Linked DNA regions of Homo sapiens: region 1 is linked to region 2. The links come from fine-mapping of genetic effects on gene expression. A gene starts in region 2. The other region holds a variant in brackets. All regions are shown on one strand. Distances are from middle to middle.

Region 1 (16,151 bases), 83 kb after region 2:
TTTGTATTTTTAGTAGAGACAGGGTTTTACCATATTGGTCAGGCTGGTCTCGAACTCCTGACTTCAGGTAATCTGCCTGCCTTGGTCTCCCGAAGTGCTGGGATTACAGGTGTGAGCCACTGCACCTGGCCTAATTTTTGTATTTCTAGTAGAGACGGGGTTTCGCCGTGTTGGCCAGGCTGTTCTCGAACTCCTGACCTCAGGTGATCTGCCTGCCTCGGCCTCCCAAAGTGCTGGGATTACAGGCGTGAGCCACTGTGCCCGGCCTAGCTTATGATTTTAAGCTGTCAGATGGGCTTTTATTTAAAAGACTGGCCTGCTCAAACATTGCTAGCCTTCTATAACATAAAACCCCAGGTTTGGGGAGTTAAGAGAAAACCACCAAAAAATAAACCAGCTCTTAGACTGTGAACTTTCTCAAACTCTCTAGTTTCAATCCGTAACTGTGGGTAGGTAGAGTTGTTATGTATGTGCTTTAAACGACAAAGTTTTTAAGAAAAACTAACCAACATTCCACACTGGGGTACTATTATAATAGAGAAAAATCTCTCTAATTATAGCAGTATTGTGGGCTTCTCCCATGCCTGGCTGGCCACGACATGGAGTTGATAAGCATACAGTGTCTTTCGTACTTGCCGTTACAACTGTTAATTAAGAGAATTCAGCTGTGGCACCAGCTGGGGATGTCTGGCTTTGTGGAAGATTGCAATTAGATGCTTTTTTTTCTTTTTGTTTTTTTTCTTTTTTTTCCCTTTTCAACTTTGGTGGAATGCCTTTGAGTAGGGGCTTTTAGTCTCAGCAGTATAAATACTTTATAATGTGCCTAATTATGTAATTATACAGTTATACTCTTCTGTGTACACACACATTGTTTTATGAATTTGTATGCCCTTTTCTAATACATGAAACATCTAGCCTGCTTTTTGGTTGTTGTGGTAGAGCCAGACTCCTCTCTGCATTGGGCAGAAAGAAGAAGACTAGATGTATTTACTGATTAGCTTCTGATTATGATCTGCCCTACTTCTGTTCCTCTTCCACCTCCCTCTTGACCCTCTATCTCCCAAATAATTAGCATCTTAGTAGCTACCTAGCAAAGTCAAGGTAATTTGAATAAAATTGGATTGTATAATACTCTTATCTTTCCATTAGTTTGCAAATGTAGTCCTTCAAAGTGTGTAGTGTTATTTTTCCCAGTCCTCTGTTCTAGGCAGTTATAGAGCATGAGCCTGGACGTGAGAGCTCATGCATGCATGCAGGCACAATGGGACCCATTGATTTCTGGCATTCAGCTTGTGCATAGAGGACCTGTGACCCCAGCTGTTAGAACCAGGACCTGGGAGCAGCTGCTTTCTGGATCCAGTCCTCCAGGGATAGGCCATCTGCTGCCATGTGAGAGAACCCTGGAAAAGAAACTGACCACAAGATATCTTTGTATTCCTTTTCTGTGTGCTCCAGCCCCTTTAGTTCTTTCCTGTCCCCTCTCACCTAGGCAAACTTGAGAAGCATGATGAATCTGCACTGGAAAACTCGCAATGGATTTTCCGTTTTCTTCCCCTTTCCCCACTCCACCCTGTCAGCACATCCAGCCCATTGGAAAATAGTTTCCAGGGGATGTAGGCAGACTTATATGGGCAGCTTCTTCAGTGGGATTGGTACTATTTAGCAGGCTTTCATTTTATTATGAATAACATGGCTTTGCATTATAGGCCTAGAAGTGTCCTTAAAATCTCATCTCATGGAAGAGGAACCCAAGATTCCACATTCTTTAGCCTTGCATTCAGGGCCTACCCTCTTCTGGCACCAGCCTGATTTTCTAAATGTTCAGTTATCTCCTGCTAAACCTGGAAACATTTGCTAACTTCTCCGTACACATACCACCTCTTCTTGATTCTCTGCCTTTGTTTGTGCCTTTATGTCCCCCACCATGTTCTTCCCACTCTCCTTTATCCCCGTCATAATCCTTTATCCCGTACTCATGATCCTACTTCCCGTGAAGTTGGAGCTCTGATACCATTTCTACAATCTTCTTTGGTCTCTTCCCCATTGGATTAATCCTTCTTCAGAACTTTCTGTAGCCCATATTGATTTCTAACATATATCTATTATAGTCGTTTATTAGAAAGCTCCTAGAGTGTAGGACCAATATCTTTTTATCTTTCCACCTGCCTACCTTCACCTGCCACAGTGCTTTTGGTACTTAGTAAAAACTTGTTGAAAAAATGAATGGCAGAATTAAGCTGAGGGAAGAGAAAAAAAGAATGAATGGGTAAATATAATCCTTACATGGATTCTGGAAGAGAAGCAGTAGATATTACTATTATTTTAATCTTGTTGGGGCTCCTTATCTGTATTCCCAAAGAGACTGAAGTCTCCTCAAGGGCACACCATGTGTATTATTTGCCCTTGAATTTCTAGCAGCAGCCTAACACATAGTGCTTAATAGAAATTTGTTAAATTAATGAAGGAATTTGTTAGGAAAGTGAAACCTGGAGAGAATAAGAATCAACACTTGTAAATACTTTTAAAAATTTGTTTAATTTTTTGAGATGGAGTCTCGCTCTCACCAGGCTGGAGTGCAGTGGCATGATGTCCACTTACTGAAGCCTCCACCTCCTGGCTTCAAGCAATTCTCATGACAAGCCCTCCCGAGTAGCTGGAATTACAGGTGTGTGCCACGTTGCCTGGCTAATTTTTGTATTTTTGGTGGATACAAGGTTTTACCATGTTGGCCAGGCTGATCTCGATCTCCTGGCCTCAAGTGATCCGCCTGTCTTGGTCTCCCAAAGTGCTGGGATTACAGGCCTAAGACACCATGCCCGTGTTTTTTTACTCTCTTTTGAGTGAAAGTTATTAGTTATTAAACCTGCTGTCTGGAGGACAAGAGATTAAAGGTATTTTCTGTACATCAATGTGGCATTTAGACATAGTTATCTACCAACATGCAGTGTGTGTGAGGCTGTCCGAGGCATTGTCTTCTGACTGGGCATCTCAGACTGGTCAGTCAAAAGTGGCTTGCGAGAGACTAGGGTCCAAAGAGCCAAAGAGGCCATGACAGGTGACAGGGGCATGGTCCTCACCCTGATAAATAAGCATGGTTGAGACTCTACTCCTGACTGTTAGCTAGTTTAGGCCCAAGTTTCACTATTTTGAGGTTGTTTTGTTTTACTAGAGCCAGACCAATATGTACACAGGCTAACATCAAAGGCCAGTCCTAGACCTTCAGGGCCAGGCATCCATCCTTCTTTGGACTTTGCAGCAGGCTTGAATGCATTCCTGTTGTTTTTAAAGATCCTTAAAGAGGCTTAAATGTGGCTTCCTCAGAGAAAAGCATGTGGGAAGGATTCAAAGAGAAAGCTTGTAAGAGGAGCAGAGGGATCTTCCAGGAGCACGGTATGCTGAGCAAGATGCAAAAGTTCAAAGTAGTGAAGAAGAGAACTCCTAGGGGGATTTGACTCCTCACTGTCCAGAATCAGTTGGTGAAAGTTCCCCTCTGGAGAAGTGCAAAGGAAACCAAGAAGGCATGGCAAACTGCTTTTCCCGTGGTGGTCATTTGGGAGAAGGTGGTTTAAAATTTTGTGATTTAAGATTGTTCAAAACAGAGAATCTCATCCCGCACAAGATGAAGGAGGAAGAATATCCAGGTCAATGGACTTGGTAACTTCCGCTCCACCTGCCTGTGCACAGTGAGTACAGAGTTCCTTAGGCTTGTTGGTTTAGAGGCAATAGAGATGAGACTTGTGGCTTCGTCCAGCCTTCTCCCCCCGCACCAAAAAACCACACACCTTTTATTGTCTCTTTTGTATTTGTAGTCCCTGTCTCATGGTGGGACCCCACCCCCCAGAATGTACAGGGCTCACTTCATGGTATGCCTTAGACCCAGTCACATCTCTTTCTTCAGAAAAGACCATTCAGGGCTGGGTGCAGTGGCTCACATCTGTAATCCTACCTAGCACTTTGGGAGGTTGAAGCAGGTGCATCACCTGAGGTCAGGAGTTCAAGACCAGCCCAGGCAACATGGCGAAACCCTGTCCTTACTAAAAATACAAAAAATTAGCCGGACTTGGTGGTGTGCACCTGTAATCCCAGCTACACAAGAGGCTGAGGCATGAGAATTGCTTCAACCTGGGAGAAGGCAGAGGTTGCAGTGAGCCAAGACAAGATCGTGCCACTAGACACCAGCCTGGGCAACAGAGCAAAACTCTATCTCAAAACAACAGCGACAAAAAACCCATTCAGACCTCCACCCCTCAACTGCTGGTGTTTCTCAAAGACCTATGGTGTTTTGCTGATTTGGGGCCATTGCCTCAGTGGATTTCTGTTACCATCCATAACTAGAGTTTACTGGTGTTTCCTTTCTTTCTTTGCGGTTGTCTAGGCCTTTGTGAGTAGCAGTGGCCTGTTGAGTGCCTAAGAGAATCAGCACACTACCTGACCCCCTGTTTGGGAGTATGTGGCAGAGGCTGTTTATTTCAGGCTTTGGCAGTGATAACCCAGTGGCCCTGTGTGTTCTGGGCAGTGGCAGAAAGGTAGCCCTCTAATTCCAGGTCACATCCCCATTCTGCATTTAGTGACAACCTTCCTTTCACATATCCGTCTTAGAAGTCTTGTGTTCTCAGCCAGGCTTGGTGGCTCACGCCTGTAATCCCAGTACTTTGGGAGGCTGAGGCGGGTGGATTACCTGAGGTCAGGTGTTCAAGACCAGCCTAGCCAACATGGTGAAACCTGTCTCTACCGAAAATACAAAAATTAGCCCGGTGTGGTGGCACACACCTGTAGTCCCAGCTACTCAGGAGGCTGAGGCAGGAGAATTGCTTGAACCCGGGAGGCGGAGGTTGCAGTGAGCTGAGATCATGCCACTGCACTCCAGCTTGGGTGACAGAGTGAGACTCCGTCTCAAAAAAAAAAAAAAAAAAGAAGTCATGTGTTCTCAGCTGAAAATGCCTACATATCTTCTCCCACTTGCAACTTTGCTGTCTGTGATCCTTAAATAGCTCCATTGTGTGTAGTACACAGAAATTAGTGAAGGAAACTGTCCTGCCTTTTCCCTCCACTTCTCTGGAAAAATGTGGCCCCACCTGAGATATGAACTGAGTCCTCTGGGCACAACTAAACTCACCAGGCCATATTCTTCTCCAAACAGGAATTATAGCAGCTTTTGTCCATATGTATCCCACCCCTATGTTATACTTTGTAGGTCTTGGGGTAAATTTTTTTCTGGTGGCATCAGAAAAAATCAAGAAGCTTCCTTGTAGAAGGGCCAGCCAGAATTTGAATGCAGACTCTAGTACTTAGAATCCAGGTGACCTCAGTCCATTACTAAATTTTTCAGAGCCTCAGTTTTTTCTGAACAAATCAAGTTTTATACCACCTTCTTCCTAGGGTGGAAGAATTTAATAGGATAACACTTTTAAAGTACCAGTGCAGTGCCTGGTGATAAATGTTAATTCTCTTCCTTACTTGTATCCTTTTGGCAACAGAGATCATTAAATTTGTTTTAAATTTGATTGTGTGTTTCTTGAGGCCCTGCTGTGTATGCCTGGGACTGTACTTGGCATTAGGAGTTACCATTAGCTGGTAGGATTGGAAATGAAACCACAATTTTGGCCTTTGTACCCAAGAGTCCAACCCTGTTTTAAACTCTAAGCCAGACTCCTAAGTCAGTTATCACCTGCTCATCAGCTTTCCTTCTGAGCTGCCGTAAACAGCCATCTGGGCCTTTCCTGAGAGGACCAGTCATCTCCTCTGGGAGATGAGGAATTCTGAGAGGGGAGAGCAAACACATATTTTAGCTCAGGTAGGTGATATGGTGAAGGAGATGAGAACAAGAAGTGACAATGGCTGATGAGGAAAAAATAAGCATTCTCTGCTTTTTCTTAAGCCTTTAACTGCCACTGTCAAGGGAAACAGTAACACTTGCTAATACACGTGGAATAGCCTGGCTCCCTACCTCCATTGTCATCCCACCATCTGGAGGTGGAGGTAGGAGACAGCTGTGGGCTCTGCTCTATAGGTCACTGTACTGACCTATAGCAGTGGTAGTGGCTTTGGGCACTGAGTGGGCTAGCCCTGTACCTGGAGCAGCAGGATAAAGGAGAATGGTCCTCTGGCCTGCCCCTCCTTGTAGCAGTGGTAACAGTGGGAGGGGGAGGGGTTCCCAGCCCCAGCTGGCAGCCTGTTTCCCTGGGTCCCTGAGCTGCAAGAACAAGAGGAGGTGAAAGGGTAACAGGCCATATGGAGTCCATTTGTCAGCCAAGAGCAGCCTGGGCTGTATTGTCGAGAACGGGAAGTGAAAAAGGAGCCGGCTTATTACTGAACTGGAACAAGGAGAGAGCAAACAACACCCCCCAAAGTGCTTATCCTGCTCTGTTTTCTGCCTGCCCCCTCTCCAAATATCCAGAAATTTCTGAAATAATCCTTTTTCTTTTTACCAAAGCCTTTGCCCATTCCAAAAATCAGAGATAAGGGTTTAGTTTGCTACATGAAAATTTATCAGTGCCTAGTAATGTGCCAGGCATGATACAAGACCCTTTCAAGTATGCAGTTTTGTTAGTCTTCTAAAAAAACCTGTGGAGCTGGATATTGGCTGCTAAGGACTAAGGCTCAGAGGAGTTATGACAGTTGACAAGGCTGCAGAGCAGGCCCCTGGGTCAAACCCAGATTCATCTGTCTGACCCCCAAGACTATGCTCTTACTCCATGTGGCTCTGGTCCTGTTAGGTAGGCAGTGTATTTTCACAGTTAGGTACCAATTTGGAGAATACAAATTGTACCCTGGAGAGGGATGCTCTTTGCCGTTGTCTGTTATTGACTCATCTCAAATCAAAAATCATTGTGGCTCATTGCAGTTGAAAACAAGACAGTGTTTTGAAATAAGGACAAAATTTTGCAAGTCA[C/A]GTTGGTTTTCTACTAAGCATCTACTATCTCCTGGATTATTTGTCAGGTACTAGGGATACAAAAATGAGCAGAACAAGTCTCTGCCCTATGGCTTAGATGTGTGGGTTGGTGGTTATTGGGGAAATGGAGGAAGGACCAACCTGTGAGAAAACCTGCAGAGACTACAACATGGTGATAGGTTACAAATAGGAGTGAAGATGATGTAATGGGAACCCAGAGGAGGAATAATAAAGCTGCTGTTATTGAACACTTAGTATGTGACAGACCCATTACCAGGTACTTTACCTGCATAGTTGTGATTAACCTTTTGAATCCCCATGTTAAAAATGAGGAAACTGAGGAATAGGAAGATCTCCCCAGGACTACCCAGTGGGTAACTGTTGGAGCAGTGTGCAACCCCAGGCCGTGAAGTCTCAGCCCAAGCTGGTAAGCTCCACCCTGTGCTGCTCATTGTTTCTCTCTGGCCATGCCTGGGAAGGTGGCCTTGGAACCTTGGAGATGGGTGGGGTTCCAGCTGACTGCATGTGCTTTCAGTTCAGGGTTTCTAGGCTGGGAGAGAAACAGTACTTTTGACTGAATGACTAAGGACTTTAGAGGCTTAGGTGCCACTAAAAGCACTTTCTTTTATTGAACGCTGTGCCTCAAACATGAAAACTCCAGGTGACAGGAGTTTTTATGTTTGAGGCAGGGTGCAGTAAAAGAAAGTGCTTGTTGGCTCTGAGGCCTCTGGCTGGCATTTTCCCTCTCCTGTGAGGGGGAGGAAGTGAGGGGCCCAGGCCTAAAACAAGATGGACAGGTCCGAGGCCTGTCCCACCTGTCAGTTGCTGATCTTCCGAGGAGGGCTTAGGTTGAGCCTCTCTTAGGAAGGCAGTGGTGGGGGCCCGAGAAGAGCCACAGGAGGTATCCTGAGCCATGGGTGGTTTCTCCCTGTGTTCTCCCACCCCAGCTCTGGTGCCACACCCTGAAAAAGGCTTGAGCTACTGCAGGCTGGCTCTCCCCCAGTGAGTGGGAAGTTCTCATGAGAAAAGGGATCCTGACTGGACAATAGGCTTCCTGTCTGACTGCTAGGAAGATTTGTCTCATAGGAGAGGAAGGTTGCAAATGGCATGAGAAACCATCTCACTTCCCTCTCACTGCAGCCTGTTTTAGACTTGACTATTTGGCGGGATCGGGAAGCCAGAAGGCTGGGCAGAGCCATGGACCAGAGCAGCCCCAGGTATCTCTTAAGTAGTGGGACTCCTGCCTGTTTTCCGGCTCTCACCACAAGTCCACAGCAGGAATCTGTCCCAATGCAGGAATTTCTGCATGGACAGGATGATCTCTAGCCCCTCACACCTTGTGCTGTATCCAAAACCACAATGGTTGCAGGACTTTTGCGAAGGAACCTTGGAGAGGTAGTGAGGCCCGCCAACTTTAGACAAATTTGCAAATGTCAGAAGAGATCTCAGAGGTGATCTGGTTCATTGCCTTCATGTATTGAAACTGAGGCCCAGAGTCTACGGGCAGTACCCAGTTTGTCCTTGTCACTGGACTCTGCCATCTGTGGCTCCCTTGACAGATTATGGGTGTGAGAGAAGCCTGACTCCGAGACCCTCTGATACTGCCCAGTGCTGTGGAATGGGAATACAGCCTTCTGGGGTTCAAATCCTAACTGTGCCACCCACCTGCTGGGTGAAATTGAGCAAGTATCTCAACCCCTGGCTCATCTGTGTAATGCATTGTTATGTTTCTAGAGGGTTTTTTGTGAAACTTAAATGAGTTACATATGTAAAGTGCTCAGATAGTGCCTGGCCTGTAGTCAGTGAACACAAGCTGTTGTTATTAGGAGGCTTCAGAAGAAACCTTTTGACCATATCAGATGTCATCACTTGTTTTTTCTTCTTTGTATTTGTCTGGAATGCTCTAATTCCAACTTGCCTGGGAGGCTTTCTTTAGGGGAATCACCTCCCCTTTGAAAAAGGCTGTTCATACTGGGTATAACTCTTTCTTTTATATGCTGTACGAAGTAGCTGGATGTCTCCAAAGCCATAGGCTGAGCACATCAAATGGGGAAATGAGCCACAAAACAGAACCTGGCAGGTTTCCTGATGCCCTGCCCCCCTCAGCAGGCCCCGGCTTAACTGAGTGGTCAGGCTTGCAGCTTAGAAGCCAGAGTTCCTGGTGAATCCAGCCCTGCCAATTACAAATGTGTGGCTTGAGGCAGATCACTCAACTCAGTTAAGCCTTATTGTCCTTATCTGTAAAGTGGAGAAAATATAGTACCTGCTTCATGTAGAGAGAGAACCCAGAAGAGTACTTGGCACAGGTAATAAACTATCTGTTTGCAATAATTACTGTTTTCCTTATTCCAAAACAAACAGAACTATACATTTAAACACCTTTGTTCTCTGTATTGACCTTGCTTTTTCTCTGGATCTCTTTGCTTCTACAAACCATTGAAGGCTAGAAGTAGAAATATAACCTTTATATATAAGAAAGGGTTTTGAGAGCAAGCACATAAATAGTGCTTTTCTAAATAACTTTAAGAGACCCTTAGTGCTAAATGCCTCCTTCTTTCCACATCTTCAGCCTCACATTTCATGCCCTGTCGTGTGGTTCTGAACCTTTTCCACTGTTTTCAGATCCCCAGACCTGTCCTGACTGCTGGCCAAGGACTCCTTCACTGAGACTGTGCTGTCCACTACAATAGCCACTACTAGGTGGCTGCATGTGGTGACTGAGAACTTGAAATGTGTTTAGTCTGAGTTGAGGTGTGCTATAAGTGTAACCGGAAAGGGGTCCAGATTCAGACCCCAGGAGAGGGTCCTTGGATCTTCCACAAGAAAGAATTCAGGGCGAGTCCACAGAGTAAAGTGAAAGCAAGTTTATGAAGAGAGTAAAGGAATAAAAGAATGGCTGCTGTATAGACAGTATAGACAGAGCAGTGTGGCATGGGCTACTCGGCTGAGTGTATTTATAGTTATTTCTTGATTATATGCTAAACAAGAGGTGGATTATTCATTAGATTTCCAGGAAAGGGGTGGGAATTCCTGGAACTGAGGGTTCCTCCCCTTTTCAGACCATATAGGGTGACTTCCTATGTAGCCGTGGCATTTGTGAACTGTCATGGCTATGGTGGGGGAGTGTCTTTTAGCATGCTACTGCATTATAATTAGCATATAATGAGCAGTGAGGACACCGGAGGTCACTTTCGTCACCATCTTGGTTTTGGTGGGTTTTGGTCGACTTCTCTGCCCAACCTGTTTTATTGGTGTGGTCTTTTGTGACATGTATCTTGTGACCTCCTATCTCATCCTATGATTTAGAATGCCATGCCTAACCTCCTGGGAATGCAGCCCAGTAGATCTCAGCCTCATTTTACTCAGCCCCTATTCAAGATGGAGTCGCTGTCATTCAGATGCCTCTTATATAAGTGTACAGACTACTATGAGAAAAAGAATATAAAGTATCTCATTAGTGAATTTTTATGTTGACTCCATGTTGAGATGTAATCAGTCAACATATTTTTTCATATGTTGGGTTAAATAAAATATTAAGATTAATTTCACCTGTTTCCATTTATCTTCCTAATTGGCTACTAGAACATTTTAAATTACATCTGTGGCCATGTTATATTTCTGTTGGACAGCTTTGTGCTAGGTTTGTGATTTCCATCCATTCCTTCCTCCTCTCCTTAGTTTCTACTCTTTTTCTTCTTTGCCTCAGGCTCTTACCCTCCCTGGGTGCCGATGAATGATCACCTAGCCAGAAGGACACCCCAGGCTATTAGAAAAGCTCATATTTGAGCAGCTTGTGTCACATTTAACACTTACTTCATTGGTTTAGGGTAGAGTTGGCTGTGACCATGTCTGTCTTCTCTAGGTTGTAGGCTTGTAGTGGGGGCATGGTTCTGTTACCGGAAAGAGGTCCAGATCCAGACCCCAACAGAGGATTCTTGGATCTCACACAAGAAATAATTTAGGGAAGTCCATAGAGTAAAGTGATAGCAAGTTGATTAGGAAAGTAAAGGGGCTGGATGCGCTGGCTCACGCCTGTAATCCCAACACTTTGGGAGGCCGAGGCGGGCAGATCACTTGAGGTCAGGAGTTCGAGACCAGCCTGGTCAACATGGTGAAACCCTGTCTCTACTAAAAATACAAAAGTTAGCCGGGTGTGGTGGCACACGCCTGTAGTCCCAGCTACTCAGGAGGCTGAGGCAGGAGAATCGCTTGAACCCATGAGGCAGAGGTTGCAGTGAGCTGAGATTGCCACTGCACTCCAGCCTGGGTGACAGGGGACAGGGCGAGACTCATCACAAACAAACAAACAAAAAATGCACTATAGATAATTTAAATGTAACCTTCTCCTACTCAACCCTAATCCCTTTGAGGCTGCATGCATGTCACACTGATCTTTATATTCCCTGCTTTCCACACCTTGTTTTGAAGGAGCTCAAGTATTTGTTCTGTTTGTTAAATTGAATGCTTTGACCCCTGGGGCCTTTCCTGGAGCTTATTTTGCTTTGCTTGTTTTGGAATGTTGTAAAAGTTTGTTTTGTTTTAATTTGCCTCCTTCTGAAAGGTTGGCCTGCAAAACCAACAAAACCAGGGAACCTTTAGAAAGGCTGGTGAGGGTCCTCAGCAGTTAGTTTCTGCTGAGGGTGTCAGGCTGAGGCGACGGAGGTGGTGGAAGTATCAGCTAGATCATTTTGCGTCTCATCTGCATTGTTACCAGGGTGGACTTTGACTGAATGCCTACTGTGTGCACTCCCTGTGCTCACTGAAAGCCTATGTGGCTGTGGGACAGAATGGAAAGCAGAGAGGAAGCTAAAGATAATTCATTGATTTTTTTTCCCCCTGTAAAATTGTCTGGCTTTCTCCTTTTCTTTTTAAAATTATGTGGCACTGCCACATCAGGTGAGTTCATTGTCTTCCCAGAGTTAAGTACAGAGCTTCCTTCTGCGAACCTGGAATTGTCAGAGAATGATCCTGGTGCACAGATCAAGACAGTTTCTTGCCTAGACTGTGGCTTCTGGAAGCCACTGAACAATTTCTTTGCCATGTGGGTTTTGCCTTTTTTTAGTGTTCTTCCCAGGCATCACTGAGAGGGTCCTCTTCAACACCTGCTGTTGGCCAGGACTCTGCTCTTGGTCAAGAGGATCATATTTTTTCATGTGTTCTTTTTCTTTTCTTTTCTTTTCTTTTTTTAAACAGAGTCTCACTTTGTCGCCCAGGCTGGAGTGCAGTGGTGCAATCTCAGCTCACTGCAACCTCTGCCTCATGGGTTCAAGCAATTCTTGTGCCTCAGCCTCCTGAGTAGCTGGGTCTAGAGGTGTGCATCACCACACCTGGCTAATTTTTGTATTTGTAGTAGAGATGGGGATTCACCGTGTTGACCACGCTGGTCTCGAACTCCTGACCTCAAGTGATCCGCCCACCTTGACCTCCCAAAGCGCTGGGATTGTAGGCGTGAGCCACTGTACCCAGCCTTTTCACATGTTCTTAGTGTCTTAAAATGACTTGCCTTTTTTTTTTTTTTGGACCCTTTCTTCTTAGGCATCCTTATTTCTTCTTTGAACCTGGAGCATCTTATGACATACTTCAGCTTTTTTCTTTTCTATGACCTTCATAGATGGGCATAAAATAATTTTTGTACTGAGTTTATTTTGCCATACTGAAGCGGTGTTGTTGTCTGGGGTAATATCTGAGGTTCATTGTCCCACAGCCATGGAAAATTAGGATGCAGACACACCAGAGTGAGGTTAAGAGTGGAAGTTTAATAGGCGAAAGAGAAGAGCTCTCTGCACAGAGAGGGGTCCCAGAGAAAATGGGTTGCACTTCTGCAGTTAAATGAAGAAGGTTTTATAGATGAGCTTGAGGAGACCATTTACATAGGGGACGAAAGATTGGTTGGACCATGTGTGCCATTTGCATAGTTGTGAAATAGCTGGCCGTCCCACCCTAATCTTTTATTATGCAGATGGGTTCTCTACCTGGTGGGCACCATGTTGCCTGGTCCTTACTGTACACGTGGTGACAAAGAAAAGGGAACATGGAGCCTCCACTCTGAACACACCTGGCTTCCAGGTGGCCCTTTTCTATTGGCACAGCTGCTGGCATTCACCTGTGCAAGCTTCCAGCTTGCTTATCTATGCAGCTCGATTTTTCAGGCTGCTCTTTGTTAGAAAAGAAATGATTTTGAGGCTGCTTTTCCTTAAAAGGGAAACCTTGCTGAGGACTCTTTTGCCGTCACTATCTGCCTAAATAATTTCTTTCTAGCTCCTGTATCAATACTAGGATTGCTATAATGTTGACATAATCTAAGGGGTCTCTCCTACCTCTAGTCCATCTTATATCAAATTATAAATTTGCTTTTCTTATAATGCTACCCTTCTCAAGAACCTTCAGCGGCTCCCCCTTTTCTTTGACTATAATTATAAATATCTCCTTTTGTAAGGAAGGTCCTCTACAAGATGGTTTCATCACTCTTCATGTTATTTTTTTGGACTTTTAAAAAATTACTCAACCCAGCCAAACTGGGCTGCTTGCTGTTCTCAGAAGTTAACCTACATTTTCCCACTTCAGTGCATTTACTTCAAACTATGACCTCCCTTCCTGATGAAGTGAAGCCCCATCTGAAGTGCTACTTCCTCGGAGATCCTTTCCTAGGCTCCCCTATTCCTGCTTTGAACTTCCTCTCTTGTGGCACAAATCACATTATTTGACATGTGTTAGAATAAATTTGTATATAGAGTATCTTTGGAAGAATATGGTAGAAACTGGTGCAGTGACTCTGGAAAGAGGAACCCAGTGACGGGACACTGTGCACCCTTTTTGAATTTAATACCTTGTATATTTCCCATGAGTCTGTTTTTTTTGTTTTGTTTTGTTTTGTAAAAGTATTTTAGATAACAAAAACCTAATCCCTAAAGCATTACAAGAAAATACTGGAGAGTATGTTTATAAACTCAGAGTAGAGAAAGAGTCCTTAATCCAGAAGCCATAAAGAGAATGATTTTTTAAATATATGTGTGCACTTAATGGTCATATCCCTATTTGGCAAGAAGGACCTGAGGTGCTTATATTTTTGTCCTTTTTCAGAGCATAGCACAGTGACCCCCTACTCAGAATCAGTAAGTATTAGTTGAATTGAAATTAAACTGAATTACAAGTCACTTCTTTGCAGTCCTCACTTTTTTTTTTTTTTGACTTATTATGAGTGCTAGGTGACCGCCAGGATCCCGCTCAAAGATTCTGTGGAGATGTGGGTTTTATGGAAAGAGATACCCAGCAAAGCAGGAGTGGCTTTAGAATCAGCAGCTCTTCCCCTGAGACTGTCCTTCCCAGCACATTGGACTTGTGTGTGGGTCCTGCCTGCTTTCAGGAGCTGCCATGGGGTGCTCAGCATTAATTATGCCACGGAAATGAACCAATTAGACACAGTCCAAGGAGAGCCAGGGAGTAAGTCAGGGAGATCTGTGGCAGGCCTGCTGCCCTGAACAAAAGAGGGAAAGTGTAAAGGCTAAAGCAGTTTGCGGAGGTTTCTTTGGAAATCTAGCTGGCCAGCGCTCTGAACTACTTGGCCAAAGTTAAAGAGCACCAGAAGGAGTGTTTGCGTTTTTCTTTCTCCTGTTCAAGACTCTGGTGGTGGAGGAGAATAGGGACAAGTTGGGTCCTTAGAGGGGACTTGGGGGGAGCTTACTGGAGCTCATCTCCTAGTTTCAGAGAAGCTGCCAGACTTCTCTGGATCCCTGTGGCACCTACCCAGCTTTGTTTTGTTAATAGCTTTTTAAAAATGGCATCTTTTTTTTAGTGGCATCACCTAAAAAAAGAAAAGAAAAAGTGCCTTTTCTCCCCATCTCAAGTGATAAGCAAATTGAGGGTAGGGAGCCATCATCTCTTTTCCATTTGGTGTCCACTCCCCAACCTGGCTGGCAGTCAGCTTGCTTAACAGCCATTTGTAGATTGGAAAGAAGAGGCATGGGTGAGAGAGGCTGTGAGGGCACAGCTGCAGGGTGGTGTGGTCTGCCCCTCTCGTGGATGAGAAACTGCCTTATCTTGGACAGTCAGGCACTGTGGTGTGACTCTCAGTCACTCCAGGCCTGTCAGAGGAAATGAGAAAAAGAAAACGACCGTTCTTATTCTCATACAGATGTCCTTGTGATATTCAGGATGGGGGCAGGTTATTTGTCAGCAAAATTGAATTTCCTTTGGAAAACTTTTGGTCTTTATTGCATTCATGGTTGCCTGGCCATTCTACCTCAGCCCAACATTCCAAACAGTGATTCTGTAGTGCCCCCACTTTTACTGTTTTGGCTGGTAATACCCGGCAGTCCACCACCTGGGGTCTTCAGTTTTGCAGTGTCAGTCCAGAGTGGAATCAGAGGTTGTCCTTTTCCTCCTCAGGTCCACTCAGACCTTCCAGATCCTCTGACTTACCATTACTGCAACTTACCAGGGTTCCCACCATACCTAGGCACTGCCTGCCATCTCCCTAACTGACCAGTTTCAAGAGGGCAAAGGGGAGGTAACCTTGACACCCATACCCCTTAAAGGCCATGCAGCTCATGGGGTAGAAGCAATGTCTGCTGGTGGAAAGAGCAGAGGTTTAGAATCAGAAGATTTGACTGTGACCCCAAGCCTGCCATTTACCTTGCTGTAAGCTTGGCTAAAAGTCACTTAACTTTTGTGGCCCTCAGTGTCTTCTTCTTCAAAGGAGAGTAACGATAGCTGTCTCACAGAGTTGTCAGGACAAATAAGGCGGGAGGTGAAGGTGCTTTTGAAACTAGGCAGTCCTGTATATCAGTGGAAAATGTGGAATTTATCATGGGATAGAGACAGGTGGTGCCATTGACTACTATAGTCAGAGAATGGAAGATGCACAGGGGGTTTGGGAAGCCTCCCAGGGAATCTATCAGAAATCCCCTCTCAGGCCAAGAGTGCACGTTTTTATTATACAATAGAGTCTTTTCTGACATTGATAGTGGAAACAAGGCCAACATTTTTCCTCCTTTCACTGTGATTTATTATGTGTGTTACAGGCTTTATTACATAATACAGGCTTTATTAAAACTATTATGTCTAGATCTCTATAGGTTCAAGACTTTAGAGTCTGCCGTTCATTTATGGATGGAATTCTCTTAAGGCATGGTGGGGAGGGAGGGGGAAATGTTGCAAGCAGCCACTTCCCCTGTTGCCAGTATACTTCCCCTCTGTCAGTGGCAACCTGAGTTTCCAGGGTTTGGTTAACAGTTCCTCCAAGGAAAGGGTTATTTCCTCC
Region 2 (16,151 bases):
GCCAATTTTGTATTTTTAGCAGAGATGGGGTTTCTCCATATTGGTCAGGCTGGTCTTGAACTCCCGACCTCAGGTGATCCGCCCGCCTTGGCCTCCCAAAGTGCTGGGATTACAGGCATGAGCCACTGCACCCAGCTGGAACCGACACACTTTTGAGGCATCAAACATTTCTCACCTGGCCTCAGAACTCACCTTCCCTGTAAAATGGAGACTATGGGGTCTGGCTGCCTCCTAGAGATACTCCACATGTGCCCTGCACCCACTAACCCTGCTGGCTCTGCTGGTGAGCTCAGCTAGCCCTGGGTTCACCTCCTCCACTACTGCTACAGACCCTGGTGCTGGAAGCTTTCAGTTTTCCAGATGTAAATGTTTCACATTTCAATTGTAAATGTTTAGCAACTTGTTCTATAGGTGGGAGCTGATTTATATTTAGTAATTTCTGTGGTGTAAATACTTCCACTGTATCTGATTTCAAACTATCAATGTGATGTCACTGAATGTGGAGTTGAGAAGAGATGAGAAGTGGCATAATATGATGTAGTACTTCATAAGAGATGTAAATAAACTTGAAAGCATAGATAAGAGTATAATGTAAGAGAAGGGAGGCAGAAAAAGTAAAAAAATACAATGTAGTAAAATAATTAATAATTAGGAAGTGGTAACTTGAGTATTTATTACTTTAACAACTATAATTTAATTTTACATATATATAATTTAATTTTTTTAATTTTTAATTTTTTTGGTTTTTTTTGAGACAGAGTCTTGCTCTGTCACCTAAGCTGGAGTGTAGTGGCACAATCACAGCTTACTTTAGTCCTGACCTCCCGAGCTCAAATAATCCTCCCACCTCAGCCTCCTGAGTAGCTGGGACCACAGGCGTGTGCCACCATGCCTGGCTAATTTTTGTATTTTTTGTAAAGAGGTCTCACTCTGTTGCCCAGGCTGGTCTCAAACTTCTGAGCTCAAGTGATCCTCCTGCTTTGGCCTCCCAAAGTGCTGGGATTACAGGCGTGAGCCACTGCTACTGGCCATAATTTAATTTTTAACAAAGGCTGTGTTTAACAACTAGCTTACAAAAATCTTGAACATTTTAGAATTGATTCTTGACAGTTTGAGCACTCTTCAGCACACCACTGCAGGTAACCTGCTCTGGTCCCCCTTTAAAAATCACATTTGGTTTTTACAGTGCAAATTACAGCTGTATTCCCTAAGAAGCAGGACATGCTACTAGTAACTGTGGCCTTGGCCTCATCTTTAAACTTTATGTACCTCAGTTTCCTCATATGCAAAATGAAGATAATAGTATTAATACCTATTTCAGAGGCTATTGCAAGGATTAAATAAAATCATGTATGTGGAGCCACTAGCAAAGTATCTGGCAGACAGTACATATTTAATGTATTGGAGCTTTTTTCAGGGGATTCATTGACATGCCTGGGGGCAAAGCTGCACCTTGGGGTCCATCATCAGCACCTTCAAAATACCCTGATTTTGGAGGTATCAAAATACCCTGATTTTGAAGGTCCCTGGCCAGCCAAAAGAGGGACTGACCCTACTGATCCAGCCAACAAGTCCTGGAGCCAAGAACCTTCTGAGGTGTTGTGTCTGCCAGAGCTTCACAGCCCTATCCCTGCCTCCCCAGACAGTCTGAAGGAGGGAGCAACTCCATTCCTCTATGCACTGGCAGCTCAGAGCTAGCAAGGCCAATCATATAGCTCTGTCTTCTCACCATTAAATCACATGAAAATGAACCATCAGGGAGGGAATACAGTGTCCAATGACCAGGAGCTGTGTGTGTGTGTAGGTGTGTGTGTGTGTATATGTGTGTGTGTGTGTGTGTGTGTGTGTATGTGGGAGGGGTTTGTGGGCTGGCTCTGTCTAGAAAGGCCTCAGGCCCTAGGCTATCCCCAGTCCCTTCCTTCCTCCCTGCAGATTGTCTCCTAGAGTCACTGCCCAGCCCTTGGGCAAAGGGCAAGCAGCAGGTCATCAGGCTGGTTGGCACCAGGGGTGGGGGGGATCTGATATTCATTCATCTTCCACTGGGATACCATCTGGAGACATAGCAGGTGGATGCTCCCTTTCTACCTTGGCTTTTCCTTGTGTGAAAAATGGGGCCAACACTTTTACCAGTTAACCTGACCTGTATTAGGGAAAGAATGTTGTCAAAGACATGCTTCAGAAAAGCAGGTGGGGCTGGGTTGCCCTCTTATATGTATCTGCTAATTGGGCAGCCTCAAGTGCACATTTTCTAAGGCTAGGGTCAGAGTTGGGGTGGATAGGGAATCATAGCTGCTGCTGTGAATAGCCCAGATCTAAGCCCTGAACTCTGACCTCTACAAAGCTCCCTCCGACCAGTGGCCTGCAGGGATTGCGTCACCAAGCCTGGCTCTCACAGGCTCCTGACAAGCTGCAAGAAGGGTTGCCCCTGGTGATGGTGCAGGCTCACAAATTCAGATAACCTCCTGAGCCTAGATCTTCCTCCTCTGGAGTGGGAGTTGCTTCTCAGCTCCTGTTGGCCTAGCCCTGTACAGCCCACCCATTTTGGACTCTGACATTCTGCGGTGAGGGTGGCCTCACCTTCCACCTCCTCTGGGGTCAAATGGGTTTACCTTCACAGGGCTTTGAAAGCTGCCCAAGGAATCTTGAATCAAAACATGAAACTCATGCTAATTTCTATATGAGATCAGACAAGCTAGCAACCTTTCAGTGCCTCAACTTCCTTATAGGTAAAATTGGGGACAATAATGTCTCTTCGTTTTATGGGGATGTTGTAAAAAACTAGCTGGTATGCAAAAAAGCACTTTTTTAAAAAGCAAGAGATATATGAGGACAATTTCAATCTTTATTTGCTATTTTTATTAGGGGTGGGAGGAAGCACATGGTTTATTTGGGAAAGTGTGACCTTTGGAACAGACAAACAAGAATGAATTCTGCTTTTGCAACATACATACTTATGTGGTTTTGATATGTCAAAAAAAAAAATCTCTCTAAGCCTTGCTTGTAAAATGGTGTTAATGATAATTAACTTGGAGGACTGTTGCCAAAATTAGAGGTTACACGTATCAAGTCCCTACCAAGCACCTGACATACAGTAGGTGCTTTGTAAATAGTAGCTGTCATTACTACTATTGTATGTAATAACCATAGCAACTGAGATTCCATGTACTTATTCTGAACCTTTTCTCTCACTTTCAGAGAGCCAAACTCCTCTGTCCTGCCCTGCAAGCAGTAAAGGCACACACTCCTTGTTATATTCCTGGGAGATGAAAGGAATACTGTGCCTCCTGACTCTTATCATAGGAGTGACTACCTCATCCTGATTGGCCCAGGACTGTCCTAATTTTGGCACTGGAAGTCCCATGTGCCAGGAATCCCCTTAGTCCCAGGCAAACTGGGATGGCTGGCTATTCTACTCACCACCAACTGGGACTAATCTAACCCCCATGCCATATTCCAGCACCTAGATTTAGAGCAGAATATTAAGATTTGTGCTGGAAATTGGCCAGGTGTGGTGACTCACGCCTGTAATCCTAGCACTTTGGGAGGCAGAAGCAGGCTGATCACTGAGGTCAGGAGTTTGAGACCAGCCTGGCTAACGTGGTGAAACCCTGTCTCTACTAAAAATACAAAAATTAGCTGGGTGTGGGGGTACGCACCTATAGTCCCAGCTACTCGGGAGACTGAGACAGGAGAATCCCCTGAACCTGGGAGGCGGAGGTTGCAGTGAGCTCAGATCATGCCACTGCACTCCAGCCTGGGCGACAGAGCAAGACTCCGTCAAAAAAAAAAAAAAAAAAAAGATTTATGCTGGAAATCTGGAAGGACCCAGGAATATTAGCTCAAAGAGCCATCTTAAGTCCTTTTAGAATAAGGCAGGGTCTGAATTGAAAAGTGAAAATAAAAAATTAGCTCTGGTTTAAAATTGATTGTTAGGTGGAAGAAACAAAAAATCAATTATAAAGGCCACATATTTGTATGATTCTATTTATAGAGAGTGCTCAGAATAGGCAAATCTATAGAGACAGAAAGTAGATTGTTGGTTGCCTAGGGAGGGAGGCAGGGAAGGTGGTAGGGAGGGAGGAAATGGTAGTGACTGCTGATGGGTATGGGAGTTTTTTTTAGGGTCATGAAAATGTTCTAAAATATTGTACGACTCTGTAAATATACTAAAAACCATTGAATTGTTCACTCTAAATGTACAATTGTACATGTGCAAATTTGTACAATTTGTAAAGTTATACAAAATAAATACAAATTTAAACTGTGAATTGCTGGTATGTGAATATCTCAATAAAGCTGTTAATTAATTAATTAATTTATTTAAGACACAGTCTCACTCTGTCGCCCAGGCTGGAGTGCAGTGGCGCAATCTCAGCTCATTGCAGCCTCTGCCTCCCAGGTTCAAGCAATTCTTGTGACTAGCCTCCCACATAGCTGGGATTACAGGCGTGCACCACCACGCCAGGCTAATTTTTATATTTTTAGTAGAGACGAGGTTTTGCCATGTTGGCCAGGCTGGTCTTGAACTTCTGGCCTCAAATGATCAGCCTGCCTCAGCTTCCCAAAATGCTGGGGTTACAGGTGTGAGAAAGCTGTTAAATTAAAAAAAAATCTTAAAAATTTTAAAGAATTTTATTTAAAAAAATCTATGATCCCTCCCACTTGAGAATGTCTAAGTCTAAATTATTCTTAACCTTCATCTTGTGAGATCTTTTCAATGGCAGAAAGATAATATTCACCCCAGGCCAGGAAGTACCATTCCATTTTGCGGGTGAGAAGAGCAAGGCCTATACGTAGAATGTAACAGGGGCTTTTCGTCAGCTGTACTGAAGAGGCCAGTGGAACTTCAGATAGGAGGGGATGAGAAGACAGGAAAGGCTGGTGAGCTGACATTTATAAAGGGAGGAGACTTGACCCTGATTCTGGCAATTCAAAGCAGAAGGAAATGGAAGCTAATCCCAGCTGTAACCCAGCTACTCGGGAGACTGAGGCAGGAGAATCCCCTGAACCCGGGAGGCGGAGGTTGCAGTGAGCTCAGATCATGCCACTGCACTCCAGCCTGGGCGACAGAGCAAGACTCCGTCAAAATAAATAAATAAATAATTAAATATTTAAAATGTTTAAAAATTTTAATTTAATACTTTTCTGTGGCACTTTGGGGCTCAACCAAAGTGCCACAGAAAAGTAGAAGCAGCAGCCTTGGGAAGATTCTGAAGGGTAAGTAGAGAAGGCCTTCAAGATTGAGGAAACAGCATGGGCACCTGGTTTGTGACAGGAATGGCTTGTTAGAGACCAGCAGGTGGTATGGGGAGGCTGGAGTGGGGTGTGTGGAGGGATGGAGAGCATTTGGGCCGGACTGTGGACAGCACAGGATACTACAGTCCTTGCTGATGACTTTGAGTTCATTCTGTGGACCCTGAAGGTCTGGGAGAGGATTTTTTTTTTTTGAGACAGTCTCACTCTGTCACCCAGGCTGGAATGCAATGGCACGATCTCGGCTCACTGCAACCTCTGCTTCCTGAGTTCAAGCAATTCTCCTGCCTCAGGCTCCTGAATAGCTAGGATTACAGGCATGTGCCACCACGCCTGGCTAATTTTTGTATTTTTAGTAGAGAAGGGGTTTCGCCATGTTGTCCAGGCTGGTCTCAAACTCCTGACTTCGTGATCTGCCTGCCTTAGCCTCCCAAAGTGCTGGGATTACAGGCGTGAGCTACCGCGCCCGACTGAGGATTTTTGGGTAGTGATGGACAGATCTGCATAGGGTCTCACAAGGGATTTTATAAGGTGGCAGTTCTTGTATGAAGTTACTGAGCCTCTTAATGGCCAAACTGACTTCAGTGCACAGCCAGGGGCTCAGTTACTTTGGCAGTTGATCTGACCTGAACCATCCATGCCTGCTTTCTTCCCTTTCCTTTCTTTCTTTTTCTCCTTCCTCCATTCATCTTCTCCAATTCTTCCTCCATCCCTTTCCCTTGCTTCCTTCCCCCTTGTCCCCTCCCTGAGCCTTGGGTCTGCCTGGCATGTTCCTGCTGCCCACACTGATTTGGTTGTGCTCTGAGGCAGACCCAGGTAGTTCTGAATTGTGCTTTTCAATCTTCTAGTGGTCTGGGCAGTGTGGCCCCAAATGAGCAGGAAGGGAGGGGTGCCCATCTTCTCTAATGAGTCTGGACCCAAGAAGGCAAGGAAGAAAGAAGGCAGAACAAGGATAGACTTATGAAAAAGGCATTATAGCAACGAGCCACAGGTTGCTGTGGGGCCCAGAAGGGAAGGGTTCTTTTGGGGATGGGTCTGTGTGCATGGGGAGGAGCATCCTGTTTATTTGGTTCAAGCTACTTCACAAGGACATGCCCTGTTAATTCACAGTGCTTTTCCCGAAAGCCTACTAGAACTAGGCCTGGTGAGAGGCCCTGAGAAGGTGTATCCTTTTGTCCAAGAGCATCTGGGAGAAGAGGCCTGCCTGACCCAAGCTGCAGCAAAGACACAAGTCTGTAGGTCCAGATGTGGACTCTACCACTGATTTACAAGTAGGAGTTCCTTAACACTTATGGAGGACCTCTGAGACCGACACGGTGCAAGGCCCTGGGGTACAAAGATAAAAAGCCAGAGTCCTCCCCATCAAGGCGCCACGGGCCCTGTAAACACATAAACCGAGGACACACTGCATGAGAGATCACCAATAAACGATGTAGCCATACAGTGCACAAACTGCTCACTCAGTATGTGCTAGAAAATAGCCCCAGAAGGCAAGGCTCAAGAGGGGAAATACAGTTAGGAATGTGGCAGGCTTCTAGCCCGGGCTCTGCCAGTCCTGGCTCTGAACTGCGGTTTTCTCAACCTTGAGATCCCTTGTGTGCTTTTAGTATGCTGAAGGATCACTCACTTCAGAATGCTAGTGAAAATACAGATTCCCAAGTCCGACCCCACTGAATCACAATGGCTGGAGGTCATTCGGGGCCCCGAATCTGCATTTTCACCCCCACCCACCCCCCGGGCAGCTTTAATGTTGGCAGGCTAGGAACCACAGTTCGGATTACTGCTTAACAGGGAGATAATAACCTGCTTCAGACGAGCTAGGTCAGACGAGCAATTCAAGAGCTAACAAGGCAACATGCGCCAAAAGCCTTGTAAACCTCAGGGCAGTACAATTCTTTGCAAATAATAGTAATTCAATCATGCAAATAATAATAATAGTAAACGAACTGGAGAGCGCACTGGAAACGCCGCATAGTCCAGCTGAGTCGGTGCCACCGCCCCATCCACTCCAGCGCAGAGGGACTGTCTCTTTAAGGACCCCCCACCTCCCCAACCGCGTCGCTTCTCCCTTGGGTACCTGGCCCGGCCGGCGGCGCGTGCGTGCAGGGCCTCCCGGCGGGGCGGTCGCGGCGGCGCGACGCCGGCGCCGTTGCGTGCGCGCCTGGCCCTGCCCCTTTCCCGCCCCTTCCCCGCCCCCTCCCCTCCGCGGGGCCTCCCCCGCCCGCGCGGTACAGCTGGGTCAGTGACGCGGGCGCTGCAGCCGTCGCTACCGCCGCGTTCTATTCTCCGAAGCCGGCGACCGCCCCACCTCCTCCCTCCCTCCCGCCCGCTTCCTCTGCCCACAGCGCCGGCCAGAGCGAGCTAGACAAGGGCACGCGGGGCCTCGCCTAGACCCGAGAAGACTGCGGGCGCGCGCAAGCGGCGGCGTGGAAGCTGTGAGCGCCCCCATCCCGGAGGTCTCCGCCGGCTCCCGGGTGAGTTGTCACCGCGGCCCGGGGGCGGCGGGGCCGGCATTGTGCCATCGACGCGCTCGGCCGGCTGTCAGGGGCGCGGGACCAGCGCGCACCGCCCAGGAGTGACGCTGGCCGGAGCCCGGGCCGGCTTCGGCGGCTCCCCGCGCTTCTCTGCGCCGGCCCGCTGTCACCCGGCCGCGAGCCGCGCCGCTGGGAGCCCCGCGCTGGCGTGGCGCGGCCAGCCGGCCAGCAGTGGGGGCTGCGCGGCCGGGGGGACCGGCGGCTGGTTTGCGGCCGGGAACTTGGTGACCCGCGGTCCGGGGCGCGCCGTCCCGCGTCGCTGCCCGGGCAGCACCGGAAGAGCCAGACGCCGTGCCGATGGGTGCAGAGGAGGTAGGCAGAGGCCCTCTGTGCCACTGTCATTACTGCCCTCAGCCCAGCAAAGCTGCGGGGCTTGCGCTGGGGCAGGGCTGGCTTAGAGAAGGTGGATTTCCTGAGGAAATCTCAGAGCCCGCCTGTGCGCACCGCGGCATTCGGGAGCCCCCGCGCCTCGGCTGCTCTTTAATCTCAAAAACTTCTCTTATTAACCAGGCTAAACTCCCCGAAACCAGCTATTTTCTTTCAAAAAGTAGGCACGTACATACAGACTTTCCTTTTTTCGCTTGGTTTTGAGACCCCAGCTATGAGTGTGGATCTGACTCTCCCTCATGGGAGTCGTGGCTGGGGAGCTGCTGAAGTGGAGAAAAGTTACCCTGGACGAATTTAGGAGCAGGAGGGGGAGGTGGTTATGGGGACAGCAAGACCCAGGAGCAAAGAGGCGTCAAAATAAAGTCTTGGGCTGGTTAAAGGGAAGTTGGCGTCTGGGCAAGGAGGCCTAAAGCTGTTGTTCCCACAGAATTTTCTTTCAGTGGCAGGCGACATGCTGGGCTTTGTTGCTCTCGCTAACTGGGCTCCTGTGTGCTCTTCCAGAGGTGCAGTAAGATTACTCAGTTCAATTAGGCCTAGGGATTTACTCCCTTTTTTGATCTACAGAGATGGGAAGTATGTCTTTCCTTCACAGTAGTTAATTCATTTCTTGCTGTTTTCGTTCCTCTGGTGTAAAAACATACATAGGAGTTACGCACACACACCTTTTCTGTTTTGGGAATTCCACACCCAAACTGTCACCATCTAGTGGAGGCTAGTAGAGACATGTGCTTGGCACTGACTTCTGAGTTCTCTGGGTTTTGTGTTTTTAGCTAGAAGCATATTCAACCAGAAATTAAAATTTTCCTGGAGTTGGGGGAGGTATGTCTACATCTCAGGAAAGAAGGTATTTAAGCAGCAATAATATGGAAAGGTTCTTGAGGACTTACTGAGTACCAACCTTTGTGCTAAGGGCTTTACTTTTTTGAACTCATTTAATAACAGACTTTTGATGTAGATATTATTATCCCCATTCTTCTAGTTGAGACCCAAACCAAACAAGTTAAATAACTCGCCCATGTCACATAGGTATCTCATGGTGGAGCCCACAGTCTGAACTACTAGATTATACTGCTAGTTTCTGGTTTGTTTACCTTTTGATAAAATTGAACCTGGAGTCTTTCTAAAACCTTCTGAAAGCACTGCTGCTTCAGGCTGTTTCTCAGATCATGAGCATTCTAAACTCTTTCTCCTGGGTACACACTTACGGTATGTTTGCATAAGATTCATTTGTTCATTCTTTCATTCAGTACTCCCAAGTAGTTATGTGATACCGAATGTATGCCAGGCACTGTGCTAGGTATTGCAGGTACTGCATTGAATAAGTCAGAATCCAGCTCTCATGGACTCACAGCCTTTAAGTCCATTTGTTTTGGTTTATGTTGTTAGCTTTCATTGCTGGCCATTTGCTGCTGAAGGAACTTCTGCCCAGCGAGTTAAACAGAGGACAGTATTGGTATGAGTCCTGATAGATAGGACTTCCTGTCTGCAGAGTAATTTTTTGGATACTGTAGTAGAAATGGCATATGAAACAAATCCTCACTTACACCTAGATAGAGACAGGTGCCAGGGTGCTCAGTGTTTAAACCCTGAGAGCAAACCCACTGTCAAATGGGCAAGTTTGACTTCTTTCGCTGAAGCCTGCCTTCTGAAAGCCCAGAATTTGGTGAGATAGAAGAGAAAGAAGGGTAGAATGAGGTGTTACAGATACAGGCTGGCAGATAAAGAGACCTCAGCACTTTGTCTGTTTTCCTGGTCAGTCTCTGAGGTGTGGTGATTGAACTTGTGTTCTTTTTTATTTTTTATTTTTTTTGAGATGGAGTCTCGCTCTGTCACCCGGGCTGGAGTGCAGTGGCACGATCTCGGCTCACTGCAACCTTCACCTCCCAGGTTCAAACGATTCTCTGCCTCAGCCTCCTGAGCAGCTGGGACTACAGGTGCGTGTCATCACGCCTGGCTAATTTTTGTATTTTTAGTAGAGACTTGGTTTTACCATGTTGGCTAGGCTGGTCTCGAACGCCTGACCTCAGGTGATCTGCCCGTCTTGGCCTCCCAAAGTGTTGGGATTACGGGCGTGAGCCACCGTGCCCGGCCTGAACTTGTGTTCTTATGTAATGTTGCATCTCTCAGTAGGGGATGTCCTCCTTTGCTCTTTTGGTGGGGCAGCAATTCCTGCAGCAGCCTTCCCTCTACATGCACACACACACCCCTTCCAAAAGGTAATAATTCACCTGGTTTCTTTAAAGTTAGAACTTCTTTCAAGTTTATTGCTACTAAGCATTGTTTCACTCCCTCCACACTTGTCCATTTCCCACATAAAAACTTGGCTTTTGCTTCAAATATTTTCTTCTGCCCTTTTTTCATATCCTTAGCTCTTCTGACAACCAAGTTACTACTGGTATCATTTGTAGGCTGGGAGAAATACAGCATCTTTAAAAAAAAATAGTGAGGTACATACTCTTCCTCATTTCAGTACCAAACAAGTGAACTGTGGAGAATGAAGCAGAACCACTTGCCAGCAGAGAGGGAAGGCCAGAGGGCACACGTGGTTGTCTTTCCCCTCTAGTTCCCCATTTATTAAGAGACAATTCACACTTGCAGGCCCGAATGTCAGCAGATCCATTGGGCCCAGGTTGTGTAATTGCCATACATGAAGTGAGTTATTAAGCTCCTGAAATGACATGCTATCTCCTAGTTGAAGCTGACAAGCAGGATTTATTTTCCCTCTTCTTTCTGTCTGGACACTATGGAAGTCTTGTTAGAGGGTGTTCGCTCAAGCAGTGGGAGAAAGATCAGAAGGAGCCAATAGAGGAGGGAGCCCCATGTCTTGTCTTCTTTTCAACTTTGAGAGCAAACATTGCTTTGTTGCAGACTTGAATGTTGAGGATTAGGACATTTGGTTAAATGTAAGCTTTGGGACAAATGCAAAACTAGGGGAAATAGAGACTCTTTCCCCAGGTTTCTCACGAGCTCCATAGTACTCAGGAACCTTTGGGTGGACTGTCCTTGCGCGTCAAGATCTGTTCACTCCACCCCTGGCTTGGATTCAAGGCAACAGCCATTGTGTGTCCCTTGGATGAGTGTAAGTTTGTGTTTCTGTGTAAGAACCTTTCATCTTAAAAAGTACAAGTTCTGGGGAAAGGTGCCTCTTACAAGGCTTAGGTTTTCGCAGCAGAGCCTGTTAGGCACCTGTGTTCTTCTTGGGCTGATGTGTCTGCGATGGTGTCCTTTTTCTTCCCTTTTTAGTTTTTTTTGGCCTGGAAACCAGCAGGGTGCCTCCATTTGCTCTCTCATCCTCTGGTTCTTACTTGAGTGTGGAAGTCGCTCCACTGGTGGACCTTGCAGTGGCACTGAGCTGGGTCACTTCAGCCGTGAAAGGCCAACTGTACTACTGTCAAGGCTTGGGACAGTTAAGCGTCCGTGAAGGTACTGGATACAGCGACAGCAGGAAGTGCAGCAGTGAGAACTGAAACTAATTTCACAGACTGTGGTGTTGCCTGTGATGTAGTCTCCCTCCCTGGCTCTTCTATCTCAAAAAAGGAAAATAGCCACCCTTGAAACATCTGAAGGCTGCGTGCCAAGAATTCACACAGTACTCCTGAAACAGGATATTACTGAAGCATTTTTCTCAAACAGAAACAGATGTAGTTCCCTGTTACTGTCGCCAGTGTTAGTAGATCCTTAAAATTACCTGACAGCAGTGTGCCCCTAAATGTACTCCCCGCTCCTACACACATACACAAGTGTTTTATTTTATTTTATTTTTTGGCAAAGCCTCCTTCCTTGATTTGAGGGAAGTTAGCCTGGGATTCCTGATGACAGTAATAGATTCTCAGTGGGTTTGCAGACGGCAGAGGTGGTGACTGACAATTCTTTATTACTCAGAAGAGGATCTTCTCTGGTGAAAAATGATTCAGGATTCTGCAGTTGGAGATTGGATACAAAACCTCAGAGAAGGGACACAAATAGAGATCTTTCTCAGCCTCCCCTTTCTTGCTACCCTTTGTAGAGGAGAGGGAATGTCTCATATTTCTAAGTCCAACCTACTGCCAGCAGTGACTTGCCTTCACCCACAGAAATTTAAGATTAGAGTGTGGAATTGCCCTTTATGTAAACTGTCCTTGCTGAAATTTTCTTTGACTAGACTAGGCTTCAGCTTCTGACAAAGACAGTAAAATGAAACTGGCTTCTGGGAATGGCATAAGAGCCTGTTTATCCAATTCTTCCTTTAGATTGTTCTCAGTTGAGCTCAGCAAACTAAGTGGACGGAGGCTTGTAAAAGGTAACTGCAAAAAGGGTACAAGGTGATTTTGCTTAATTTGCATTTTAAATTATAGCAGTCTATGCAAACTGTTTGAAGGAAGACTGAGAGATGTTTTTTGGTGGGGAGGCACAAGATTACAGATAGCTTGGAAAATAAAAGGGAAAAAAAATCAGCATGATTCTACCACCCTAACATAATGTGTATTCTGTTTTTTCCATCTTCAGATGGTAGTACCTGTACATTCAGCTTTGTATTTTTTTCACTTAGCTTTTTTTTTTAACAGGTCATAAAATTCACCCATTTAAAGTACAATTCAGTGGTTTTTAGTATATTTACAGAGTTGTACATCTATCACCATAATCTAATTTTGCAACATTTTCATCACCCCAAAAAGTCACTCCCTATTTCTCTACAATCCCACCTAGCCCTAGGCAACCACTCATCTTTCTCTCTATATAGGTTTGCCTATTTGGACATTTCATATAGATGGAATCATATGATATGTGGTCTTTAATAACTGGCTTCTTTCACTTAGCATAATGTTTTTGAGGCTTATTCATGTTTTACCATGTATCAGTACTTCATTCCATTTTATTGCTGAATGCTATTCTGTTGTATTGATATACCACATTTTGTTTATCCATTCATCAGCTGATGGACAGTTGGGTTGTTTCTGTTTTTTGGTTATGAATAATATTGCAGTATTGCTAAGAACGTGTGTATAAGTTTTTCTGTGGGTATATGTTTTCATTTCTCAAGGAGATACCTTTAAAGCTGCATCCATCCATATCTCTACTTTGTGGTTAACATTCTCCTAGGTTATGCAGTTTGTTTGAGGAAGAACAGTGTTTTAGTAAACTCTTGATCCTACTGTGGTGTTGCGGATATTGCCCTGAATCAAGAAAAGGTGCCACCAAAAAAAAATCCAAAACCCAAAAACAAAAAGAGAGAATCCTGTTTTTAAGTTTGAACTCTCCAGTAGCATTGTTTCCAAATATTTGGTGCAGAACTTTAACCATTGGTGAGAGTTGACAGACGCGATAGTGCCTAAATTCAATGCACATGTACTGCTGCTTTAAACAAATAAAGAGGATTTTCAATGCGAAGCCTCAGCTCTAAATCTCATCTTTGTGTTTTATAGAGAGGACTTTACCATGAACCCCCAAAGCCTTCCTTATCAAATGTGATTTATAGTTCTCAGAAGCTTTTCCTTTTCTTGTGAAAAATTCCATGCCAGGGTTCTGTGCACCTGCTCAAAGGCTTCTGCTAGGTTGGGGAGTGGAATGCTTATTGAACAGAGAGCCAGCCAGCAAGGTAGGGAGGAGGGAGAGGGTCTGTGAGTGCCCTGAAAATGTAGATCTGAGAAAGAGTGCTCTTTAGAGCAGCCCCCACAGGGCTTTTCCAGGTGGACCTCAGGTGTAACCCGAGGTTAAAAACAGATCATGCCAGACACAAAAAGGAGCAGATGGTGCTGCTTGGAGTGTCATTTCCTCTACAGGATGTGTCCCTGTGTGGTTTTACATCATGCCAACCATATTAATGAAATAATGCAACAGAATGTCTCCTTTTGCCCTTGTTCCAATTGGAACCACAGGTTGAGTTTCCCTAACCTGAAATATGAAGTGCTCCAAAATCTTAAACTTTTTGAGCACCCACATGATGGAGAATTCCACACCTGACCTCATGTTTTAGGTCACAGTCAAAACTACCTTCAGTCTATGTGTATTACGTGTAAATGAAACATAAATGGATTTTATGTTTAGACCAGGGTCCCATCCCTGAGATACCTGATTATGTATATACAAATATTCGAAAATCTAAAACATTTGTGATCCCAAGCATTTCTGATAAAGGACACTCAGCCTGTACTAGCACTTGTGACCAACAGCTAGTCTTGCTTTCAACAGCTAGTCTTGCTTTCCCTGATCGTAGATCCCTACTAAAAGCTCTTGAAAGTGTGCATATGCAGGCTACCTAATGATTTAACGGAGGATCAAGATGGTTACACTGCAGAGAAACAGGAGGGATAGGGCATATGCCCTTTGTCCAGCAAGACAGACAAAAACTAGGAACTTGAATTCTCTTCTCTGGATTCCTGTATCTGGAGCCAAGGCCAAGGATCAGTTCTTCTAGAAAGTTCCCTCCTGTGTGTGTGTGTGTAAATGTGTGTGAATGCAGCCATAACTTCCCTGCCAAAATTCATTGCCAAAAATTTTGTGATTTGAAGCAGGCCTTACCTGTTAATGCAAATTTGATTCTCAAATCCTAAGAGTTTCCAAAGGTTGAGTGAAGTGAGATGAGACTCTTAGTTGAAGATCCAGATGCTTCACTGTTGCTATCTAGATGCTACCAAAACTCCCAGCACAACAAAGTATATGAAGAGAGGTTCTAGGTTCATGAAATGTTAGAGTTGGAAAAATGGGCCTTTGGGGTTCTTCTTATTCTACCTCCTCATTTTAAAGAAATGCAAGTGGGAAATGGATGCTCAGAGCTGACTTGCCTGAGAGGTGAAAGGGCTAGTGGAGAAGCCAGAGCCCCTGATTCCTAGTCTAGTGCTTTTCCCTCCCGGTGTGATCACCTCTTTGTTTCTCCCCCTCTTCTGGGCCTGGTCCCGGAATGGGGGTTGGGAGTCCAGCAGGGTGTCGTGGTTCATATTTTTGGGAACAAATTCAAGTTACTTCTGTGATTGTAGTTTTGAGTCTAATAGTGAAATTACAAAGGCAGTGAGTCATTAAGTCCAATTCTTCTGAAAGAAAACTGTTCTTAAAATGGGTGCAGAGCCCTCAGGGCTGCTCTGCCTATGGAGCAGCCATTCTTTATTCCTTTACTTTCTTAATAAACTTGCTTTCACTTTAAAAAATCGGTGTAGTTGTGTTTAGGCTGTGCCTGCTTAACTTTTAAATCTCTGTGCTGTGTATCTTTGCCATTCAAAAATGCCACCTGGCCTGGTACGGTGGCTCACACCTGTAATCCCAGCACTTTGGGAGGCTGAGGTGGGACAATTGCTCAAGACCAGTTCAAGACTAGCCTGGGCAGCATAGTGAGAGTCCACATCTCTACAGAAAAAAAAAAAAAAAATTAAAAATTAGCTGGGCATGGTGACACACACCTGTAGTCCCAGCTACTTGGGAGGCTGAAGTTGGGGGATCGCTTGAGCTTGGGAAGTCAAGACTGCAATGAGCTATGATGGTGCCACTGTACTCCAGCCTGGGTGACACAGTTGAGACCCTGTCTCAAAACAAACAAACAAAAAAAAACCACCTGACCCCAGGCCAATGGGATGTGTGCTCTGTCTGGGAGAACTGATCCCACACCTACACCCCATTAACCTACCAAACCCTTCAGAGCTGTGTCTCGACTTCCTTGGGCTTATTGTATGTGGAATCAGCTACCCACCTAAATGCAGCGTGAACACACATCTATAACTGTATGTCTCTAACCAGGCACAAAGGAAGCAAGTCATATATACTGGCTTTCCCCATCCCAGAAAGCCGGTGAACAGAGTCTTGTGTTTAGTGGGTGCTGCTGTTTCAGTTGGCATGCTTGAGCCATTGCTAGAAAAGTAACCAATGATATGTTATCTGGTCTACCCCTTTATCAATCCTCCATCTGCCTCCAGGTAGAAACTCTGCCATGGGAAGACCGTCTGCCTCCTTGTTTCTGTCCTGTGGGAATTTTGCTTGTTACACAGCAGAATAGCAAGAAAAACAGGCTCT

What was found.
Region 1: its variant is fine-mapped to the expression of SUSD6 in whole blood (INTERVAL, PIP 0.91).

What each region holds. Positions count from the first base shown.
Region 1 is chr14:69,687,144-69,703,294 of GRCh38, forward strand. The region is part of intron 2 of SUSD6 (sushi domain containing 6); the gene reads left to right. Among named protein-coding and RNA genes, the nearest start is that of SRSF5, 72 kb to the right of the region's middle. RefSeq lists silencers at 1,169-1,463, 14,149-14,443 and an enhancer at 7,343-7,392. The variant C/A (reference allele first, on the strand shown) is at 6,893.
Region 2 is chr14:69,604,102-69,620,252 of GRCh38, forward strand. It overlaps SUSD6 (sushi domain containing 6), which reads left to right and starts at 7,495. Exons shown (of 6, transcript NM_014734.4): 1 at 7,495-7,727. RefSeq lists a silencer at 7,244-8,013 and enhancers at 11,379-11,428, 11,699-11,908.